2 separate regions of the Homo sapiens genome follow, and region 1 is linked to region 2. Evidence: fine-mapped expression QTL. A gene starts in region 2. The other region holds a variant in brackets. All regions are shown on one strand. Distances are from middle to middle.

Region 1 (5,375 bases), 38 kb after region 2:
CGTCCCCTTTCTCCTTTAGTCCTGTGACCCATGTGCTTGCTCTCTTTCTCTCTCAAAGGAGATCCAAATTTAAAAATATGGAGCCAAGGGAATCAGTTCCTTTGCGAACACACTGAACGTTAGTTTTCTTCTTCTCTTTTGCAAAAACTTCTTATTTCACAAAATACTCAAACAAATAGACAAAGTACAGTGAAGTCCAGGTAGATATCATCCACCTTCAGCAATGATCAATCCATGGCCAATCTTTCATCTCAACACTCGTATCCTCATTCTTGTGGAGCAAATGCCAGACATTCTTTCATCCATCAGTATGTCAATATGTATCTCTGAAATAGAAGGACTTTTTATAAAACATAATCATAATATAATTAATATTCATTCCCCAATTGTTTTGTTATTGTCTTTTACAGTTTAATTTTTGTTTTGTTTTGTTTCGTTTCTTTTTGAGACAGGATCTTGCTCTGTTACCCAGGCTGGAGTGCAGTGGTGCGATCATGACCCATTGCAGCCTCTACCTCCTGGGCTCAGGTGATCTTCCCACCTCAGCCTCCCAAGTAGCTGGGACTACAGGTGCATGCCACCATGTCCAGCTACTTTTTTGTATTTTTGTAGAGATGAGGTCTCACCATGTTGCCCAGGCCAGTCTCAAACTCCTGGGCTCAAGTGATCCACTTGCCCCAGCCTTCCAAAGTGCTAGGATTACAGGCATGATCCATAATACCCAGCTACGGTTTGTTTTCATTTGGATGCTAATAAGACCCATACATTCCATTTGGTTGATCTATCTCTTCAATTTCTTTTAAATTTATAATTTTATAAGGTCCCCTTCCACATTTTTCTTTGTGGAAGAGGAGAAAAGACCCTTGTTCTCTGGATCACTCTGTGGTTAAGGGGGTAGGTCCTCAAATCAGATGCCCTGGTTCTATTTTGCTTTCTTGTTTTTTAGTACTTTTTGTTTGTTACCTACACACAGAAAAGTACATGAATCATAAGTGAGCAGCTTGATGAATTTTCATAAGTGAACACACCTGTGTAACCACCACCCAGCTCAGGAACAGGGCATCACTGGCACCCAAGAACCCCCTCTCAGGCCCTTTCCCAGTCTCTACCACCTCACAAAGGTCAGGTGACTTTTTCACACCACAGCCATGTGTTACCTCTTTTTGAACTTTATATAAATAAAATCATAGCATACATTTCTTGGATGACTGGCTTCTTTCACTCACCTTTATGCTGGTGGCATGCTTATCGTAATGATTTGTTCATTCCCAATGCTGCATAGTATTCCATTGAATATGAATGTTCTACAATCTGTTTATCCATTCTAGTGTTGATGGACATTTGGACAGTTTACAATCTTAAGCTATTACGAATGGTGCTATTGTGAATGTTATTGTCCGTGTGTTTCTTTGGGTACATACTTAAGAATGAGAATTATGCATGCTCATGTTGCCAAGGTTTTAATTTTGGGTTTACTTAATATCACTTTTGTGACCTCAAGCACATTATTTTACCTCTCTGGCCTCAGTTTCTTAATCTGTAAAACAGGCATAATCATATTCACCCTGTGGAGTTATTGGGAGGATTAAATATTTAAAAAAATCTAAAACTCTTAGAATCGTGCTTGTCTCTTAGTAAGGGTTTTATAAATGTTAGCTGTCAACCCTTCCTCCCTTTGTGGTGGTAACTTCTCAAGCTCCTTCACTGTTTTTCTCCTCCTGCCAAGTTTCATTCTCCCAAGTTCAAGTTAACCTGGTCTGCTTTTCTTTCTCTCTGAAACTTGTCTATGCCTATGACTTCCATTATCTTGTACTGTGGACAGCTTTTGCAACGTGTTACCTAGAAACTATGACTCCAAATCCCCTTGTCTACAAAACTCAGCCTCTCCCCTGCTTACCAATGCTCCCTTTCTAGTAATGATGTCATATTTTCCCTTTCCCTTGAATATATGTGTCACCAAAATCTCAACAGATCTAAAGTAAATTTACCTTTCTCTCCCATATTAGAACCACCTTGGGATCATCTCTGACCCTTCTCTCTTTCTTGCACCCCATATTTAATCTGTGGGGAAGTCCTGAAGAATCTATGCTCACATCACTGTTATTCTTTTCTTTTTACTTCCACTGTCTAGTTCAGGCCCTTAACAACTTACATTGAAACTAATGCAATAACCTGTTATCTCTTCTACCTGGCTCCAACCTCTCCTATTTCTAATTTTCTCTGAACATTGCCTCCAGATTAATTGGACTAAAATATGGCTTCATAATAAATCATCATGATAGGGCATATAACTGTGAAAAGAAAATAAAGCCTTGGGACCCCAAACTCACTATGTCAAAGGGAAAAATTAAGCTTGGAAACTGAGTCACACAAAAACTGCCTTCCTTTTGCTCCTAAACAGATCGTTGCATTTGGATATTTGGACTGTTTACAACCTTAAGCTATTACAAATGGCGCTATTATGAACGTTATTGTCCATGTTTTTCTCTGGGTACTTAGTTAGGAATGAGTATGTGATAACGGAAGGCCATCTATCTCCCCAGGTGGCCTTCCTCACAATTGCTTACAAGGAAATTTTTTGTGGGTCCCAAATCTTTCAGAATACATATCCTCCTGATGAACTACCCCTAAAACACAGTTCTGTTGAATCTCACCCTGACAATGTAGGCTTTTTTTTTTTCTTTTTTTTTTTCTTGTGAGACAGAGTCTTGTCATCCAGGCTGGAGTGCAGTGGCACGATCTTGGCTCACTACAACCTCTGCCTCCCAGATTCAAGCAATTCTCCTGTCTCAGCCTCCTGAATAACTGGGACTCCAGGTGCCTGCCACCAAGCCTGGCTAATTTTTTGTACTTTTAATAGACATGGGCATTTCACCATGTTGCCCAGGCTCATCTCGAACTCCTGACCTCAAGTGATCCACCTGCCTCAGCCTCCCAAAGTGCTGGGATTACAGGCATGAGTCACTGTGCCTGGCCAACTATGTAGATTAACATCTTATCTTCACAGGTATGAGACAAAGACCAGACTAGAAATAATTCCTCTGCCCACCCAAGACAAATGCATATTAGATTTCTTCCTCTACTCTGTGTTTACATATTTTATGTAAAATGTAGATTTACCAAGCAAGAAAACTAACATAATTGACTGTTCCTCTACCCGCCCCTTTCACATGTAAAATGTAGATTCAGCGAGTGCTAATCAAAGCCGCATAGGAAAGTAATCTCCTGTCTCATTGCTTACCCTTCCTTCTTTTTTTCCTTTCCTCTCTAAAGTCCTGAAAAACCCTTTTTGGAAAAAGCACAGGCCACAGATCCTATGGTAACTTGTGTTTCTTTCTCCCAGAAGAACTATGGT[T/A]ACTTGTGTTTCTTTCTCCCAGAAGAAGAAATAAAACAAACTTCTACATGGCAAAATAAACCTCTACATGGCAAAATAAACCTCTACATGGCAAAATAAACCTCTACATGGATAGAGATCTGTCTCAGACACATTTTGGTTTCCATGACTTCTGAATGGCAGCATGAGGAGCTCCATGAACCCTCTCCCCAGTGAAATGACCATAATCTCTGGAAATTGCTTAAGATCAAAGCCACAACTATTTAAAGCCTTTGGAAATTGTTTTATGGGGATGCGGCAAATTAATAAACTTTTATTCAAGAAAATGTACTAAGTCTCAGTAAGAACAGTGAGAGTCAATAACATTTGTACCACAAAAGACTTCCTCCCTCCTTCTTCTAGCTCAGCATGATGGAAAAGTTACTCTAAGTAGGTGAAGCCGAGAACACGGGCTACCTCTTTCCCCAGCTCTCAGTTGAGGGCTACTATATCTCGCTGGGAGGGCGGCTGCCAGCATTTCTCATACCCTCCAGCTTCATGCTGCAAAAGCTCTACTTTGGACAAGACTGGCTGATAAATCTGGGGCTCACTTCGTAAACCTAGCCCCCAATCATAGGGCAGAAACTCCACCTCGGCCATGGCAGGCTGAGAATACTGGAGCCTGTGTTACCCTGGCCTCAGCTTGCTCATGGGGCAGAGATTCTTTACAGGAAAGGCAAGAGCAGAAGAGCAAAAGCTACTGCTCTGCCCAGCACTCTGCTCATAAAGCCGGATTGTCATCCTGAGATAAGGGGGCCACTGTCTCTGCCTGAGTTCCCCAAGCTCCGGAGCAGTGGTGCAGAGGTTTTGCCCAAGGGGAGAGGAAGGCGGTAGATACAGAGACCTCTGAAGTTCTTCCCAAGAAAACACTTTATGTAGAACACAATGTGGGAAAGTTCAAGTGTAAGGGTGTTCTCAAAAACAATGAAGATTTTGTTGGTAAGCAATTAAGAGGAGCCTGGGAACTCCATTCAAGCAACAAGCTGAACTGTAGACCAGCTAGAAGTGTTCTGGAGAGAACCAGGGAAAGCATCAGCTAAGAAGAGCCCCCTTGGTGTTAGAATAAGTCTCAAAGACTGACCTGAAAGATTACCCTTGCAAAGGGGCCCAAATTTAATGTACAAGACAGGAGCAATTCATGCCTCCAGGGCATTATCAAACACGAAAGAACAATCAGCCAGCAGTTGGTGGAGGCTAACGGCTGTATGTGATACCATAGCAGGCTGACAGCTTAACAAAGAGATAAGGTAAAGAGAAAAGGAGACTTTTTTTTTTTTTTTTTTAAGATGGAGTCTCACTCTGTCGCCCAGGCTGGAGTGCAGTGGCCCAATCTCAACTCATTGCAGCCTCTCACTCCCAGGTTCAAGTGATTCTCCTGCCTCAGCCTCCCAAATAGTTGAGATTACAGGCGTGAGCCACCACACCTGGCCCAAATTTTACTCTTCTAGGCACCTCATGTAAGTGGAATCATACAGTATTTGTCCTCTTGTGATTGGCTAATTTCACTTTACATAATGTCTTCAAGTATCATCCATATTGCAGCATGTGTCAGAATTGTCAGAATTTCATTCCTTTTTTTTTTTTTCTTGAGACAGGGTCTCACTCTGTCTCCCTGGCTGGAGTACAGTGGCACAATCACAGTTCACTGCAACCTCAACCTCCTGGGCTCAAATGATCCTCCTACCTCAGCCTCCCAAGTAGATGGGACTACAGGAGCACGCCACCATGCCCAGCTAATTTTTTTTTTTTTTTTTTTTTTTTTTACTTTTTTGTAGAGACAGGATCTCACTGTATTGCCCAGGCTGGTCTTGAACTCTTGGGCTCAAGCAATCCTCTTGCCTCTGCCTCCCAAAATGCTGGGATTACAAGCATGAGCCACTGCACCGGCCAATTTCATCCCTGTGAAAGCTGAATAGTATTCCATTACTTGTACTTACCAATTTTATTTATCCCTTCATCCATCAATGGACATTTGGGTTGTTTCCCCCTTTTGGCCATTATG
Region 2 (5,375 bases):
CCTGCTTCACCCAGGCTGTCCTGGCCTGTTTCCCTTCCAGCTTCCCCGCAGAAGAGTGATTCTGCTCTGCAGGGTGACAGTGGCGGCCAGAGGAGGTGTGTCATCGGAAAGAAAAAAGTCTGCTTGATTGTCACAGGGACCGTTCACTTAACACGTATTTCTCGAGTGTGTGAGCATCTAGTCAATGCTGCTAGATGCCAGAGAGGCAAAGATGACTGCACTTGGTCCTAGCCCCTTGGAGCACCTTGTCTGGCACTGGCCCCACTGCTGCAGCCCTGGCTGAGGTCAGCAGGCTGCTCTCCCTCAAGTCAGTGGCCACCAGAGCCTTACCTGCCAGCCCTGTCTGCCACCATGGCTGCTGGGCCTCCCTCAAGCTTATTTTTGATGTCTATATTGTGGGTCAAATTATAAGAGGCTTTAAAAGGATGAGTGTAAATGGAGGTGTCTGTCCCCTAATGGGTGCCCAGAGGAATTTTTCCATGTCAGGTAAGGATACCTTTTTTTCTGAGGCAGGGTCTCACTCTGTCTCCCAGGCTGGAGTGCAAAGGGCGATCACAGCTCACTGCAGCCTCGACCTCCCAGGCTCAAGCAATCCTCCCACCTTTGCTTCCTGAGTAGCTGGGACTACAGGTGCTTGCCATCACAGCCAGCTAATTTTTTTTTTTTTTTTTTGTATGTTTTTGTAGAGATGGGATTTCACCATGTTGCCCAGGCTGGTCTTAAACTCAGCTCAAGCTATCTGGCCCCCTCTGCCTCCCAAAGTGCTGGGATTACAGGCGTGAGCCACTGCGCCTGCCCACCCGCCCCCCACCCCCCGACTTCTTTCTTTTTAAACATTTTTGTAAACTTCTCTCTTTTTAAACATGCACACTCACTCCACCCAAGCCTCTGAAGACAGAATTCTTGACCCTATTGCACTTACGATCTAATAGAAGAGACACAGATATAATATATTATGGTTTGATATGTTCACTGCTAGAAGTTTATGCCAAGTGCTGCTAGAACATAAATAATGGAGCAGTTCATCTTTCCTGGGGATAGGAGCCAGAGCCACAGTGAGCGCTGTTGACTGGGGTCTTAAAATTAAGCTGCATATGCCAAGCAGGGAAAGCGGGAAAGAGCATTGCCAGCAAAGGGAGCAGTATGATCAAAATTCCAAAGCAGTGCGTGCCAAAGGGCGTGTCATGAGCTGGAAAAGGTATGGTAGCACTGGTCAAGATTGCAATTTCAGTGTTCTTTTTTTTTTTTTAATTGAGACAGAGTCTCACTCTGTCACCCAGGCTGGAGTGCAGTGGCGCGATCTCAGCTCGCTGCAACTTCCACCTCCTGGGTTCAAGCAGTTTTCCTGCCTCAGCCTCCGGAGTAGCTGGGATTACAGGCACCCGCCACCACACCCAGCTGATTTTTGTATTTTTAGTAGAGACGGGGTTTCACCGTGTTGGCCAGGCTGGTCTCGAACTCCTGACCTCAAGTGATCCTCTCATCTTGGCCTCCAAAAGTGCTGGGATTACAGGCATGAGTCATGGCACCCGGCCAGTTTCAGGGTTTGTTTGAAATGATCACTTAATGAGTAACTGTCTCCCCTACTAGACTGTAAACTCTATGAGGGCCGGGGCTGGGTCTGTGTTCAACCACACTATGCCCCAGTGCTGAGCATGTCATGGCATTCAAATAAATATCCGTTGGATGGATGAATGGATGGAAGAAAGGAGGGATGAAATTTTTTAATTAAGAGATGTGTGCCAATTTTGGCAAATTTGTCAAAAATTTTGAAGAAAGTTTTTCTCAGTGAATATGAATATATTCCACTTGTGAATCTATTCACAGACTATGGGCTTGCTGGAACCTAAGAGTCATCGAGTAGTTTAGACTTCTTATCAATAGATTTTTATTTATATTCATAAGAGTATATTCTTGAATATATTTACTAATGCATTCATTAACAGTATATATTCGTATTCATTGAAAACATTAAAGAAAAAATTCTTTAGAATGGACAAATCAGAATATTTCACTTTTTTTTTTTTTTTTTTTTTGAGGCAGAGTCTGGCTCTGTTGCCGGGCTGGAGTGCAGTGGCACGATCTTGGCTCACTACAACCTCTGCCTCCTGGATTCAAGCGATTCTCCTGCCTCAGCCTCCCAAGAAGCTGGGACTACAGGTGCGTGCCACCACACCCAGATAATTTTTGTATTTTTAGGAGAGGCGGGGTTTCACCATGTTGGTCAGGGTGGTCTTGATCTCTTGACCTTGTGATCCGCCCGCCTTGGCCTCCCAAAGTGTTGGGATTACAGGCGTGAGACACAGTGCCCAGCCTAGAATATTTCATAAATGTAGCAAATTGGCTTTAGGGAACTTTTTCTGCTTCCAGCATTCAGCAGCTATTTGAAGGGTTTTGGAAGCAAAGGAATGGAGGGAGACAGGACGGCACCCTGAGGGAGACGCAGGGCTGAACGGAGCTGTTCGGGGATAGCTGTGGCTTGAGTGGGTCTGTTGGCTGAAAGGAGGGATTCGTTGAAGAAGGAGCAATGGACGAGGTGAGAGAGAGGATACTGGATGGAACCAGGTTTCAGAGGAGGCTGATGGGAGAATGTGAGGAGCACCAAAGCGAGCCTTAGGAAAAAGAAGTTCAGACAGACAGACACTTCGGTAAACCACAGCTCCCAGTATTCACCACTGTGTGTAGTCTCCTCCCACACTGACTCTGGGCTTGGTCAGCTGACAAGCTTTGGCCAATAGGGCTCTAGCAAGAAGATGCCAGCAGAGGCTTGAAAAGTGCCTACCCCTGGCCTGGGATGCTTCCTCCTGGGATGCTCCCACTTGGAACCCAACTATTGTGCTGCAGAAGTTTAACTTAACTGTGTAAGGAGGCCAAGAGGAGGCCCTGGCTGCCAGCCAGCATCAACTTCCAGTGACGTGAGTGTGCCATTCTGGAACTGGATCCTGCAGCCTCGGTGGAGCAGCCTCAGCTGATGCCATGTGGAACAGAGATGAACTGCCGCTGCCGAGCTCTGCCCACGTTGCAGAATCATGAGCAAATGTGAGTTTTGTGGTTTTAAGCCACGAAGTTTAGAGGTGGTTTGCAATAGAATGGAGGGGACTGCTTTTCTTCTGAGTTTCGGATTGAATTCTGCTTTACTATAACTTATTTATTATATATTTGTAACAATTCTGTCTCCACCCATCAGTATTCACCCGCCTAAGGGCACAGAGGCACCAGGACTCTGGGAACCTTCCTTGATGTCTGGATCTACTGCAGTGACTCTTAGTGCAGCAGTTAAAAGCCAGACTGTCCTAGTGTGAATCCGGCCTTGGCTATTCATTGGCTGGAAGACCTGAGCCAAGCCTGTGCCTCTGTCCGGGCATCTGGGTAGATGTCCTAGGAGTCCACTAAGAAGAAAACTGAGGCCAGTGAGAGGCAGAGTTGAGGCAAGGCGCAACTCTATTCCCCTGCTGGGGAAAGCAGCTCTGCCCCTCGGTCTGCCCTGCTGACCAGGCATGACACACCACCTCATCAGCAGGGCCCACGGCACCCAGACCTGGCCTGGAGGGGCTGAGACAGCATTGCTAGGGGTCAGATGGTCACAGAATAAGCAACCTGAGACCTGGAAGGGCATAAGCATCTTCCCCTACCTGGAATCAGAGGCATAGCTGAGGTCAAACATCAGGGCAGGAGGGCCTGGAGGGGGTCGGAACCAGAGGTCACCCGGGTGTTTGGTTGGGAGGGGCGTCCATCTTTATCTTATCCATCACCATCACCATTATTGCTAAACATACAGTGAGCATTACTATGTGCCGAGCACTCATCTAAGCCCTTTATACTTCTAAACTTCTAAACTTATCCTCATAGCCACTTTTGGACACCAGTACATTATTGTCTCCACATCATAGCTGAGGACTCAAGGGACAGAGGGGTTTTGTAACCTGCTGAAGAACATGCAGCAGCTGCATAGCATAGCCAGGATTTGAACCCTGGCAGCCTGGATCCAGAGCCTGCTTAGGACCACTCAGTGACACTATTGAGGATTTCAGCCACCTTCTCCATAACACTATAGTCTTGCTTTTACCCTACTCCCTCAAACATCTTTTTACCAGGTCAACATTAGCTTAAAAACTGAGACACTTTTCTTATTGAAGCACATGCTCCAAGTACACCCTCTCTGCTCCCCAATTAGACCATCATTCCTGCCTTCCCTCCGTCTTATCTCTTCTAAATCCTTACACCGAGTGCCACCTCCTCCATGAAGATTTCCTGTCCTGGTTACTTCCCACCTGGAAATTTATACCTTCTCTCTTTCTTTTTTATTTCCTTTTCTTTCTTTCTTTCTTATTTATTTATTTATTTATTTATTTATTTATTTATTTATTTATTTTGGAGACTTTTTGTTTTTTCTTTTCTTTTTCGAGACAGAGTCTTGCTCTGTCGCCCAGACTGGAGTACAGTGGGGTGATCTTGGCTCACTCTAGCCTCTGCCTCCCGGGTTCAAGTGACTCTCATGCCTCAGCCTCCCAAGTAGCTGGGACTACAGGTGTGTGCCACAAAGCCTGGCTAATTTTTTTTTTCTTTTTTTCTTTTTTTGCATTTTTAGTAGAGGTAAGGTTTCACTGTGTTGGCCAGGCTGGCCTCAAGCTCCTGGCCTCAAGTGATCCACCCGCCTCAACTTCCCAAAGTGCTGGTATTACAGGCATAAGCCACGGCGCCCGGCCTATACCTTCTTTCTTAATTTGCCCAGCACCATTTGTTTCCTCCACTAGTACATATTCCACGGCTTGCCGTAATCTGCTTTGATGCCTATGCTGACCACTGGGATGAGCCCCAGGGGCCCTCCCTTCACCATTCTGACAAATGTTCTTCCCAAAACCATGGGAGTAGCTAGGAAAAGGTAACCAACAGGGCTGTGGAGAAGACAGACAGAAGTAAGACATACAGTCCCTCAGAAGGTGGCAGCCAACCCTGCCTGAGCTCTTCTAGCACCCTAGGGGGGCAAGTTTGCTTTCAGCAGAAGAGCTGGGGTTTGGGCTGGGCATGGTGGCTCATGCCTGTAGTCCCAGCTACTGAGGAGGCTGAGGTGGGAGGATTACTTTAGCCCAGGAATTCAAGGTTAGGGTGAGCTATCTTTGTGCCACTGCACTTCAGCCTGGGCAACAGATCAAGACCCTATCTCTTTTTTAAAGAAGAAGAAGAAGGAGGAGGAGGAGAAGGAGAAGGAGAAGGAGAGGAAGAAGGGGGAGGGGGAGGAAAAGAAAGAGGAAGGAGGAAGAGGAGGGAGGAGGGGAAGGGAAAGAGGAAGGAGGAGGAGAGGAAGAGGAAGAAAAGAAGAAGAGGAAGAAGGAGGAGGAGAGGAGGAGGAGACGAGGAGGCGGAAGGAGGAGGAG

Direction of the effects. Positions count from the first base shown, and alleles are read on the strand shown. Sizes are in standard deviations (SD) of each study's normalised expression.
As copies of A replace T in region 1, the expression in spinal cord of the gene that starts at base 2,737 in region 2 goes up (moderate effect, 0.51 SD a copy in GTEx).

The links. PIP is the estimated chance that this variant, and not a neighbour inherited with it, causes the effect. A credible set is the group of variants that fine-mapping cannot tell apart.
Region 1: its variant is the best candidate, but not a certain one, in a credible set for the expression of CARMAL in spinal cord (GTEx, PIP 0.67).

The regions. Positions count from the first base shown.
Region 1 is chr15:89,076,057-89,081,431 of GRCh38, forward strand. The region is part of intron 3 of CARMAL (coronary artery disease region linked MFGE8 regulatory lncRNA); the gene reads left to right. It also overlaps a transcript of ABHD2 not described here. Among named protein-coding and RNA genes, the nearest start is that of ABHD2, 9.7 kb to the right of the region's middle. The variant T/A (reference allele first, on the strand shown) is at 3,356.
Region 2 is chr15:89,038,262-89,043,636 of GRCh38, forward strand. CARMAL (coronary artery disease region linked MFGE8 regulatory lncRNA) reads left to right here and starts at 2,737. Exons shown (of 4, transcript NR_183882.1): 1 at 2,737-3,039. It also overlaps a transcript of ABHD2 not described here.